2 separate regions of the Homo sapiens genome follow, and region 1 is linked to region 2. Evidence: fine-mapped expression QTL. A gene starts in region 2. The other region holds a variant in brackets. All regions are shown on one strand. Distances are between the middles of the regions. Region 1 has its middle 47 kb from the start of RBM43. Region 2 holds the start of NMI (N-myc and STAT interactor).

What was found. PIP is the estimated chance that this variant, and not a neighbour inherited with it, causes the effect. A credible set is the group of variants that fine-mapping cannot tell apart.
Region 1: its variant is the best candidate, but not a certain one, in a credible set for the expression of NMI in whole blood (TOPMed, PIP 0.88).

What each region holds. Positions count from the first base shown.
Region 1 is chr2:151,211,762-151,217,145 of GRCh38, forward strand. No RefSeq gene overlaps it. Among named protein-coding and RNA genes, the nearest start is that of RBM43, 47 kb to the right of the region's middle. The variant G/A (reference allele first, on the strand shown) is at 2,465.
Region 2 is chr2:151,287,013-151,292,396 of GRCh38, forward strand. It overlaps NMI (N-myc and STAT interactor), which reads right to left and starts at 2,656. Exons shown (of 8, transcript NM_004688.3): 1 at 2,581-2,656. RefSeq lists enhancers at 1,205-1,374, 2,175-2,224, 2,245-2,294, 2,685-2,764, 2,825-3,244 and a silencer at 2,425-2,624.

The DNA of each region.
Region 1 (5,384 bases), 75 kb before region 2:
GCTGGTCTGGAACTCCTAACCTCAAGTGGTCCACCTGCCTCAGCCTCCCAAAGTGCTGTGATTACAGGCATGAGCCACTGTGCCGGGCCTGAACTGACGTTATTTCTGCAATGCTACTCAGCAAACAAAGTGATAAAGTAGAGCCTTGACACTTACAAATTTAATAGTCATTGGATACCTTGATTAATAAATTAGCTGGGCAAATAATTTTAAATTGGAGATCATTTTCTATTATAATTTTGAAGACATTTCTCCATTATCTTAGAGTTTCCAGCATTGCTGTTGCAATATTGATGCCATTCTAACTTTGAATTCTTTTTTATCTCTCTTTGTAAAAAAAACATAAAATAAAATTGGTAGAGTTCCCTTATTGTCCCTGGTGTCCTGAGATTTCATCATGCTGCACCATTGTGCAGTGAATGAGGTGGACCCTTCAACCAAGAAATTCATGTGCTTCAGTTCTGCATAATTTTTGTAATTATTTTGTTGATGAATTCCTCTCCTCTATTTTATCTGTTTTCTCTTTGTAAAATTCCTATTATTTTGGATTTTAGGTTTCCTGACGTTGTGCTCTAATTTTCTTATCTTTTTTCTCTCATTTTTCATCCTTTTTCTCTTTTTTCCACTTTCTGAGAAATTATTCAGCTTTACATTTCAACCATTCTTTCAGGTTTTCCCAACAACTCTTTGTTTTTGTTTTTACTGATCTTTTTGTTACAATTATTCTATTCTTGCTTCCTGTATGGAATCTCCTATTCTCTGAGGTTTTGTTTTGTTTTTGTTTTTGTTTTCAGATAGAGTCCCTTCTGTTGCCCAGGCTGGAGTACAGTGGCGCGATCTCGGCTCTCTGCAACCTCCACTGCCCGGGTTCAAGCGATTCTCCTGCCTCAGCCTCACAAGTAGCTAGGAATACAGGCACACGCCACCATGCCCAGCTAATTTTTGTGTTTTTAGTAGAGACGCGGTTTCGCCATGTTGGCCAAGCTGGTCTTGAACTCCTGACCTCAGGTAATCTGCCTGCCTCAGCCTCCCAAAATGCTGGGATTACAGGCATGAGCCACCATGACCGGCCTTCTCTGAGGTTTTAAGTGATAGTTTTTGTAAAGTTATCTTATCCCTGAGTTGTTTGGTGTTTTATGTTGTTTACTACATACAAGAAGCTTTGCTCTGATGCCTGATAATTGCAGATTGTCTGTACATACTTAAGAGTGAAGCTTTACAAGTCGATTAAAACCTGGAATATTTTATATTAAATAAAAAAGGAAATCTTGTCACATGCTATACAACAAGGATGCAACTTGAGGACATTATGCTAAGTGAAATAAGCCAGTCACAGAAGGGCAAATATTGTATGAGTCCACTTATGCAAGAGATCTGAAGTGGTCAAACTCATAGAAACAGAAGTGTGGTGGTTTCCAGGGAAGAGGGGGAAATGGGAGTTGTTCAATAAGCATACAGTTTCAGGTTTGCAGGATGAAAATGTTCTGGAGATCTGTCACACAGCAATGTGAATATTCTGAAATACTTACTGAACTCTACACTTAAAAATGGTTAAGATGAAAAATTTCATGTGTTTTTTTACCACAATTAAATTTGTTTACATTTATTAAAAAGTTGATTAGAAGTTTTGAGCACAAAGGTGGGGCTGTTTTGCCATGGGCTCCAGTTCCAAGCGATGAGGACAGCTATTTCCCTAAGGAATCCCTAGCGTTAATGTCATTAGGTCTCTCCTCTTGGAAAGCCATGGGCTGCTGAGATTCCCCAGAGAATGATCATCCGAATTCCTCTCCTATAGGGTATGGGACTGGCTGCTGGCTTTCTGTGAGGTTTGTAGGGAAAGACAGTGATTCAGTGATTTCAGAATTGAGTATACAAATTTTACCTTCTTCCCTGCCTTCAGTATGGGCCCCTGTCCTCAATTGTGCTTGGAATCCTTTCTACGTTACCCCTTCCATGTTACATTTCCTGGGAATATAGCTTCAATCTTCTTCCATGATGATGGAAGAGCAAGCCGTCATACAACTCTGTAGAATCGGGACGCAGGCCTAGGGAGCTTAACTGCTTCTGAAAGAAATCAGACTACTTTCTTTGCACTTACAGAGGTATCCGCTCTAATTAAGCCTTAGGGATTCAACTCAGTGTAAATCAATTTGTTTCTCAACTTTCTCCACTGCTTAGTGAGGATTCAGTCATGTCAGATCTGCTTAATCAATTACCACTTTCCCATCTACTTATCAATTTTCAAAATTTTATTCATTTTCTCTCCCATTCTCTTGTCCTCAAGTGTTTATGCCTTAAAAAAAAAAAAAAAAAAAAAGTTTAGGCCGGGCGCAGGGGCTCATGCCTGTAATCCCAGCACTTTGGGAGGTTGAGGCAGGTGGTTCATTTGAGGTCAGGAGTTTGCGACCAGCCTGGCCAACATGGAGAAACCCTGCCTCTACTAAAAACACAAAAACAATTAGCT[G/A]AGCCTGGTGGTACACGCCTATAATCTTAGCTACTTGGGAGGCTGGTGGGAGGCAGGTGGGAGGACCGCTTAAACCTGGGAGGTGAAGGTTGCAGTAAGCCAAGATTGCACCACTGTACTCCAGCCTGGGTGACAGAGCAAGACTCCGTCTCAAAAAAAAAAAAAGTTTAGATTAGAGGGGCTTAGGGTTCGACAAGAGGGTGATAGCTATTGCCTATATTCATCCACCATCTTTACCCAGAAAAGTTGGCTTGTTTTCTATAATTTCAGACTTAATAACTAATTTCTTGGTTGGAGGTGATGTAGTGGAAAGTATCAGAAATTTAGAATCAGTCAACGTGAGCCAGATTCTGGATCTGCCATTTTCTTGTGTGACCACAAGTTAACTAGCTTCTCATATCAGTTTCTCTGTTTATAAAATGAAGATGTTAACACATAGGCTTCTTCTGAGGATAAAGTGAAAAAAACATATGAAAGTCATATGTAAAATAACATATGTAAATCTCATGTAAAACTTAATGCTTGCTTAATAAATACTCTTCTTTCCGTTCCAATATTAGTTGTTCAATTTACCTTCCACTAGCAACTGTAACATTCTGGTAATAACCTCATTCTGGGCTCAGTTTCTACAATATTATTCAAATCACACTAGCCATCCTCTACTGGCTGTACTTGCCACCTTGAGATCTGCTGTCCGATTACGACATTCAGTCTCAATTGGGTGCTGTGTCATTTTGTTGGAATAAGTGCAAATTTTAAATTTTAAAAAAATTCAAAAATGAATGCATTACTTTTGAGTCATTTAATCAAATCTACTTTTACCTTACTATTGATATTTCCAAAATTTCCCTTAAAAAGTAAAATGGACTTTGGTTAGATATCAAGATCTGGACAATTGTGTAGAACTTTAACCATCTGAGCCCAGAGTTTTGTTCATACCCTTGGAGATGCAAAGCAGCTGGTTACTGTCCTCATGTTATTACATTTTCTCCTAACCCACTCAGTGATAACATACCAAACCATCTGCAGCAAAAACATGCCAAGGTTTTACAACAAACTGGGCACTAAGCATTGCTCCATATAGACCATCAAGAAATTCACAAATCAGTGGCTTAAAGACTTTATTAAATTTACAAATATTTCTTGAGTACCTACTATGTTCCACTAATTGTCATAGGTATTTGGGATACACGAGTCAAAGAAACACATTTAAATCAAGAATCCTTGCATTCATAGAGCTTATATTTTAGTGAAAGAGATAGACAATAAACACAATAAGTAAGTTATAAAGTGTGTGTTTTTTAAATAGAGCAGGGAAAGAGGATCAGAACTGCTAGAAGAGGTATTGCAATTAAAATAGACAAGATTTCTTATGTACTCCAGAGATCACCACTAAATCAGTGATAGTTGTTTGGTCACAAGTAACAAACAACTTTAAACAGAACATGAATATATTAGGTAGATATCAGGGGACATACAAAATTGATAGCAATACCAGAGAAACAAGTCGAAAAAAGGTTAGGAATCAGGGTAGCTCCAAAGCAAGTGGAATTAATCAACATTCTCCACACCTACCATCACTGGAACGAATAATCTCCTAGCATCTCGTACCCTTTCTGCATTGCTCCAATCAAGACTGGAAGTTCCAGGAGCATCTGATTAACCAAGCTGGAGTCACTTGCCTGCTTAGTGGGTAGACAATCCCAAAAAGAAAATTTCCAGAGGGAGAGTTAATTCTTCAAAAGGAAATTAGTGTGTGTGCCAAAGTAAGGGAAATGGGTGATGGGCAACCAAAACAGTACATGTTCACTATTGCAAGTGCCAGCTCCAGAAAATCTACATAGAAGGGGTGTAGAGAAGCAATCTGATTGAAAAGAGGCAGTAGGGTACGGTTCTTAATCTGCATTTTGATAGCAATCACACTGTTTTGACTTAGATTGTTTATTTATGTTGGTAGTTTTGAAGAGTTGCTTAAGATTATTGAGCCGGGTGCAGTGGCTCATACCTGTAATCCCAGCACTTTGGGAGGCCAAGGCAGGTGGAAAACTGGAGGTCAGGAGTTCGAGACCAGCCTGGCCAACATGGTGAAACCCCACCTCTAATAAAAATACAAAATTTAGCCGGGCGTGGTGGTGCACGCCTGTAATCCCAGCTGTTCGGGAGGCTGAGGCAGGAGAATCACTTGAACCTGGGAGGCAGAGGTTGCAGTGAGCTGAGATCATGCCATTGCACTCCAGCCTGCGCAACAAGTGAAACTGGGTCTCAAAAAAAGAGATTATTAGCTAGATTAAGCCTCTACAAGCGGTGCCTGGGGCCCTCTACTGATCACAGCCCCAGAGACACCTTCTGACTGCTATTGCAGCTTGACTGAACTTATTCTAGAATCCCCAGTAGGATGAACCAGAAGAGACCACCATGTGGACTTTAGTACACTACAATGTTCTTTTAGTTCACTACAATGGCCTTTAGTAGTGAACAACAAAGCGCATCCTAGACTAAATTAAACAGTCATCAGCCCATTGGACTACTCTTTGTGTATGTTTAATTATCCAGGGAAGAATATTTCACCACTTTTCAAAAGGGGATTTGGAACATATGCTGCTATAGGAACAGTAGCATAGATTTGAATCCCCCCAAATCGTCACATGAAAACAGACAAAACAAATATACAGCAAAACCAAAAGCCACAGACAATAGTTACAACAAAACTAAGTCTTTTCTCTGATCATATTGGCAGTGGTTGTATTAGTATTAGTATTCTGAGATGATTCTGTGTATAATAAAGCAAATTAGTAATGCTAGAATATTCTAATTTTCTCATCCCTCATGTTGTTATCAGTGGAAAGTATCCATACGGGGCTGCAGCAACCTCAATTCTTGGCTTCTCAGAACAAAGAATTCACCTGAGGGACATAAGGCA
Region 2 (5,384 bases):
TCAGGACAACTGGTGAAATTCACATTGGATCTGATTATTAAATTGTAGTAACGTAGCACTCCACATTCCTGATTTTGATGACTGTATTGTGGTTATGTCGGAGCACATCTTTTTTGTAGGAAATATATACTCAAGTATATAATGAAAGATGATAGGTCACCAGATTGGAAATTTATTCTTAAATAATTTAGGAAAAGGAAAAGTTGTTTTACTGTACTTGCAACTTTTCTGTAAGTTTGAGATGCCTTGAGACGATATATATATATAAGTATATATATATTTAAACCACATCTCTCTCTCTCTCTCTCACACACATACACACACACACACACACACGCATACATATATACATATATATCGCTATTGTATCAACAACTGCAAAATCTTCTTAATGGTCAGCCATGGTCTGATACATTCTAACTCCAACTCACTTTCCCGTCCTATTTAGTCAATTCCTCAACCCAGTTCCCTAACCACACTGAACACTTGGATAGTTCCTTTTCTTTCCTCTGTCCCTCAAACTGTCACATCCTTCCTCCTCTCCCAAACTTAATCTCCATCTAATGAAATCTTACTGTTCTTCAAGGTCCATTCCAAATTTTCCCCAAGCTCCCGAAGCCTTTTCTGATTCCCCCAAAGGATGTTACTCCCCCTCCTTTATCTCCTTTGCGGCGCTTTAATTACGTGTGTACCTATGTCATTTTCCGTGACACATCAGTAAACATGTTGAGGGCTGGGACCATGTCTACTCCTCCCTGCAGACATTCAGAGCACTTTCTCAGTATAAGCTTACACACTGAAAACACTCCATTTAGAGAATTATGTGGTATCTTGACTTAAGTATTTGTTGTACTCAGGACATCACATGTATATGAAGTCCTCTTATTACATTTCAGAAGACAGAAACTGCAATGTTATTTAATTGCTTTTTATTTTTATTATTGTGACAATGCCAATATTCCAAGAGCCTGTAATAAAGGCTCTCAGCATAAATGGTCTACTATCTAACACCACCAGAACCCTTTTGGCATCTTTTGCATCTGGATACTTTTGCTCTATGCATGAGTGGGATGTATGGTCATTCCTTTTATGCAATCATGTAGTAGGCAAAACAATGGCTCCCTCAAAGATGTCCACATCTTAATCCCAAGAATCTGTGATTATGTTAGTTTATATTGCAAAGGAGAATTAAGGCTGCAGATTGAATTAAGGTTGCTAATCAGCTTGCTTTTAAATATGGAGAGCATCCTGGATTATCTGTGGGAGCCCAGTGTAATCATGAGGCTACTTAAAAGTGAAAGCGGAAGACAGAAGAAGAGTCAAGAGTGAAATGTGACCCCGGAAGAACTTTCAGAGGCGCAATGTTGCTGGCCCTGAAGATGGAGGAAGGGCTGCTGAGCCAAATAAGGTAGGTGGCCTCCGGAAGATGGAAAGAGGATTCACCCCAAGAGCTTCCAGAAAGGAAGGCAACCCTGCCAACACTTTGATTTTAACCCAGTGAGACCTCAGTAGGACTGCTACAGAATCCTAAGATAGTAAATTGTGTATGTGAGTGTGTGTGTGTGTGTGTGTGTGCGCGCGCGCGCGCGTTCCTATGTGTTTAAGCCACTAAAGCCATGTAATTTGTTATGGCAGCGAATTAAAAAAACTGATACAAATCAACATCACCGTATTTCCGTAATACAATCATATAACTGCGGTGCCAGGCCGTGTAGAATCGAATCTTCCTATATGCATGCGTGGCAGCAAAAAGAAAGGCAATAGAACGTCTGCCTGTTGTACAGACTGGAAACACAGTATTCTCCTTCGGATGTCTCCTTCAAGAAAAACCTTGCCTATTCTGACACGCCAGCCATGACTGCACAACACTGCCCCTACCAAGAATCGTTTTCTTAAGAAATCCGTTTTCCTAAGGACTATCTCCAGAGACACTCGGAGAAAACAGCGAGGGCCGGGCGCGGTGGCTCACGCCTGTAATCCCAGCACTTTGGGAGGCCGAGGCGTGCGGATCACGAGGTCAGGAGATCGTATCCATCCTGGTTAACACGGTGAAACCCCGTCTCTACTAAAAATACAAAAAAAAAAATTAGCCAGGCGTGGTGGCGGGCGCCTGTAGTCCCAGCTACTCTACTCGGGAGGCTGAGGCTGGAGAATGGCGTGAACCCGGGAGGCGGAGCTTGCAGTGAGCCGAGATCGCGCCACTGCACTCCAGCCTGAGCGACAGAGCGAGACTCCGTCTCAAAAAAAAAAAAAAAAAAAAAAAAGAGAGAAAACAGCGAGGAAACACAAATAACTTTATGTTTCAATTTCCTCAATGAAGCAAAGCAAACAAGTGACAAGGCTCGAAGCCCTGACGGCCCAGAGACTGCACAGCGGGCCCAGGAGCAGGTGCGCCCCCTCGAAGGCGGCGTGGCCTCCGCGACTCGGCTGCGGGCAGCTCCCGGGGAGCAGGGTCTCAACTCCGGCGCTGTCCCACTTCCGTCGGCGCTGAGGGCTCCCACCTCCCTTTCCACCCCCGGCTCTCCAGCCCGGGACTGCCAGCGGCGGGAGTGGCAGCCGGGGAAGGGACTCCCCACTCACCCGCGTCCGCCCGCCGAGCGCAGCTCCCCAAGGCCCAGCGCGCCTGCCCTTCCCGGAAAACAGCAGCGCCTGAAACGCCGGAACCCCGGGAGGCACTGGGAGGGGAAGGCCCGGGTTCTCGAAACTGTCGCTGCCTCCTGCAGAAGCGCCGCGGGAGAGCTGCGGGGTCTTCCTGAGGAGGTGGCCCTCGCAGGAACAGCTGGGTTCCCCGCGAAAAGAAAAAGACAGTGAAAAAGAAAACTGCTTTAACGGCGATTTTTCTTTAGCATTTAACCAATGCTCAAATACTAAACATGGTTGTCTCCAATGATTAGTCACTAACAGAAAAAAAAACTAATTTCACTTTCGATTTTTAAAAAGGGGTGGTTTTGCGGAGGAAAGCAGAAGTATACCTGAAGTTTCCGTACACACTAATTTTAGGGAACGCTTTCTAAAACCAGTTTTTTGCATGTATTTTATAAGGTATGTTGGAAAAGTGGATAGAAACCAAATAAAGTCAAAGCAGGAATCGCTCTTCATCAGATTGTAACTCTTTTGTAATTTCTTAGTCATTGTAACACTAGTTGACAAATGTTTACAGTCAGCACAAGATCGGCGTTTCTGTGTCTTTTGTAACATCCCCCGGGGCCATGAAGTTGGGAAAGCTGTGGTGTTCCTGTTGGTTTCTGTGACCCATGTCCCTTGAAAGTTTTCTTATAATCTCTTGTTTTGTTGTGGAGCTTGTAAATAAATACTTCACTAGGTGTGAACTTTTCCTTTGAAAATTCAAACATCTGGTTTATTTCAAGAACTGCAGTGTCTCTTAATCCCACACAAAGAACCACCCCACAGCTGCCCCGGCTCATAAATACAGATGTGGGAAGAAAATGAGTCAAAATTATTTCAAGGCATAAATTATAGGTTATCATGCTACCTAGTCACATATAATAACTGATACAGTGGTCTAAAATAGTTTAACAAAAGTAAAATTTCTTTGTATCAAAAAGGTTGATGGGAACCAGTTTAAAGTGGTGACATTTCTCTTTTTTTTTTTTTTTTTTGAGATGAGTCTTGCTCTGTTGCCCAGTCTCCAACTCCTGAGCTCAAGCAGTCCTTCCACCTCCACTCCCAAGTAGCTGGGATTACAGGAATTCACGACCGCACCCAGATTTTTTGTACTTTTAATTTGGGTGCTGGGGGCAGGTATCTAACTGTTTCCCAGGCTGATCTTGAGCTCTGGCCCAAGTGATCCCACCACCTCAGCCTCCTGTAAAATGGCATTTCTAAGTAAAAAAAACGACTTCTTTGTGCTTATCAGACCAGTTAGAAAATACAAAAACTCCTTCTGCTGCAACTTGAGAAAGAATTACTTTAGTTTTACCTTGAAATTTTAGAGGGAATATGAACTCTCGAGGTTATTTAGTTGAACCTCATTTCTTCTTATTTTTATTTTTTACAAGAAGATACTAAAGGACAGGACCATGGCCAGAACAGGACTAACTTAATATATTGACTCAGATTCTGTTTAAAAGGCAAATGATACAGGTGGAGGGGAAGTCTTTTTGGACACCTACATTCTAAAGCTGAGACATGTACTAACAGTCTGAATTTAACTCAGCTTCAAATCTGGTATTCTGCAAAGTGTTAGAGATCTGAAGATGAAGAGTTGGCTCCTGGACATACTATTAATAATTGTAATTGCTAACATCTACTAAGAACTCCTGGACATTTTATAAACCTTTTTGTTTTGCCAACAACAATATTAGATATAGGTATTATTCCCATTTCTTTTCACCTGTCTGAAGCAGGCAGGAAGGTATTATCCCCATTTTGCAGTTGAGGAAACTAAGGCATAAAGAGGTGACCCAAAATCAAGCAGTTAATATATGGTGACAATGATATCATACTCTACTCTCAACAATATCTCCAAACTGTGTCCTAGGGTACATGGAGAACATGGAATTTTATGGCCCAATACAATTAGGAAATGCTGCATTCTGAATCCACTTTTGGAAATTCACAATGCACATTGGCACATTAAGAGTTCCAAGAAGTATTGCAGGGAAAAATTAAAAATTTGTGCATATTAAAAATTTTAACTTTATTCAACCTTGAACTTATCAAATCAATTTGAGCGATATATTCTTTTTTTCAAGGAACAGTTATTAAAATCTTGGGGAGTTTCTGATGGGACCTTTCGAGGAATGCTCTAGTAAATTACGCCCTCTCCTAATATAAAAGTTATTTATTGATGTTATCATGCACTCAATAAATATGTTGCACATGAGCTGCAGCACTCTGTGCCTTGGATATCTCATGTAAATCTACACAGATGTGAGGTGAATATTATGTTACACATTTGTCTCCCTGACTACATGGCAATGAACTCCTCCCAGGCTTTCTATAAAGACACACACACACACACACACCAGTATTACATACAGTCTAATGTGTGTTGGAAGGGGTAGGATACCAGAAGTAGTAAAAAACAAAGGAGAGCGTAGTCCCCTCTACCTGAGGAGGTCAGGGAAGTTTCCTTCACAGAAGAGGTGAAAATTGAGTTGATTCATTAAGGTAGAGAAAGTAGACTGAGAAGAAAGATCGGGTGAAAAATCTCAGAGGGATGTGCAATGGACTAAATGTTTGTGTTCCTCCAAAATTCGTATGTTGAAATCCTAACCCCCAAGGTGACAGTATTAGGGCTGGGGCCTTTGGGAGATGATTAGGTCATAAAGGGTGGAGCCTAAATGAATGAGATTAATGCCCTTATCAAAGAGGTCCAAAGGAGTTTGTTGACCTCTTCTGCCATGTGAGGACACAGACAG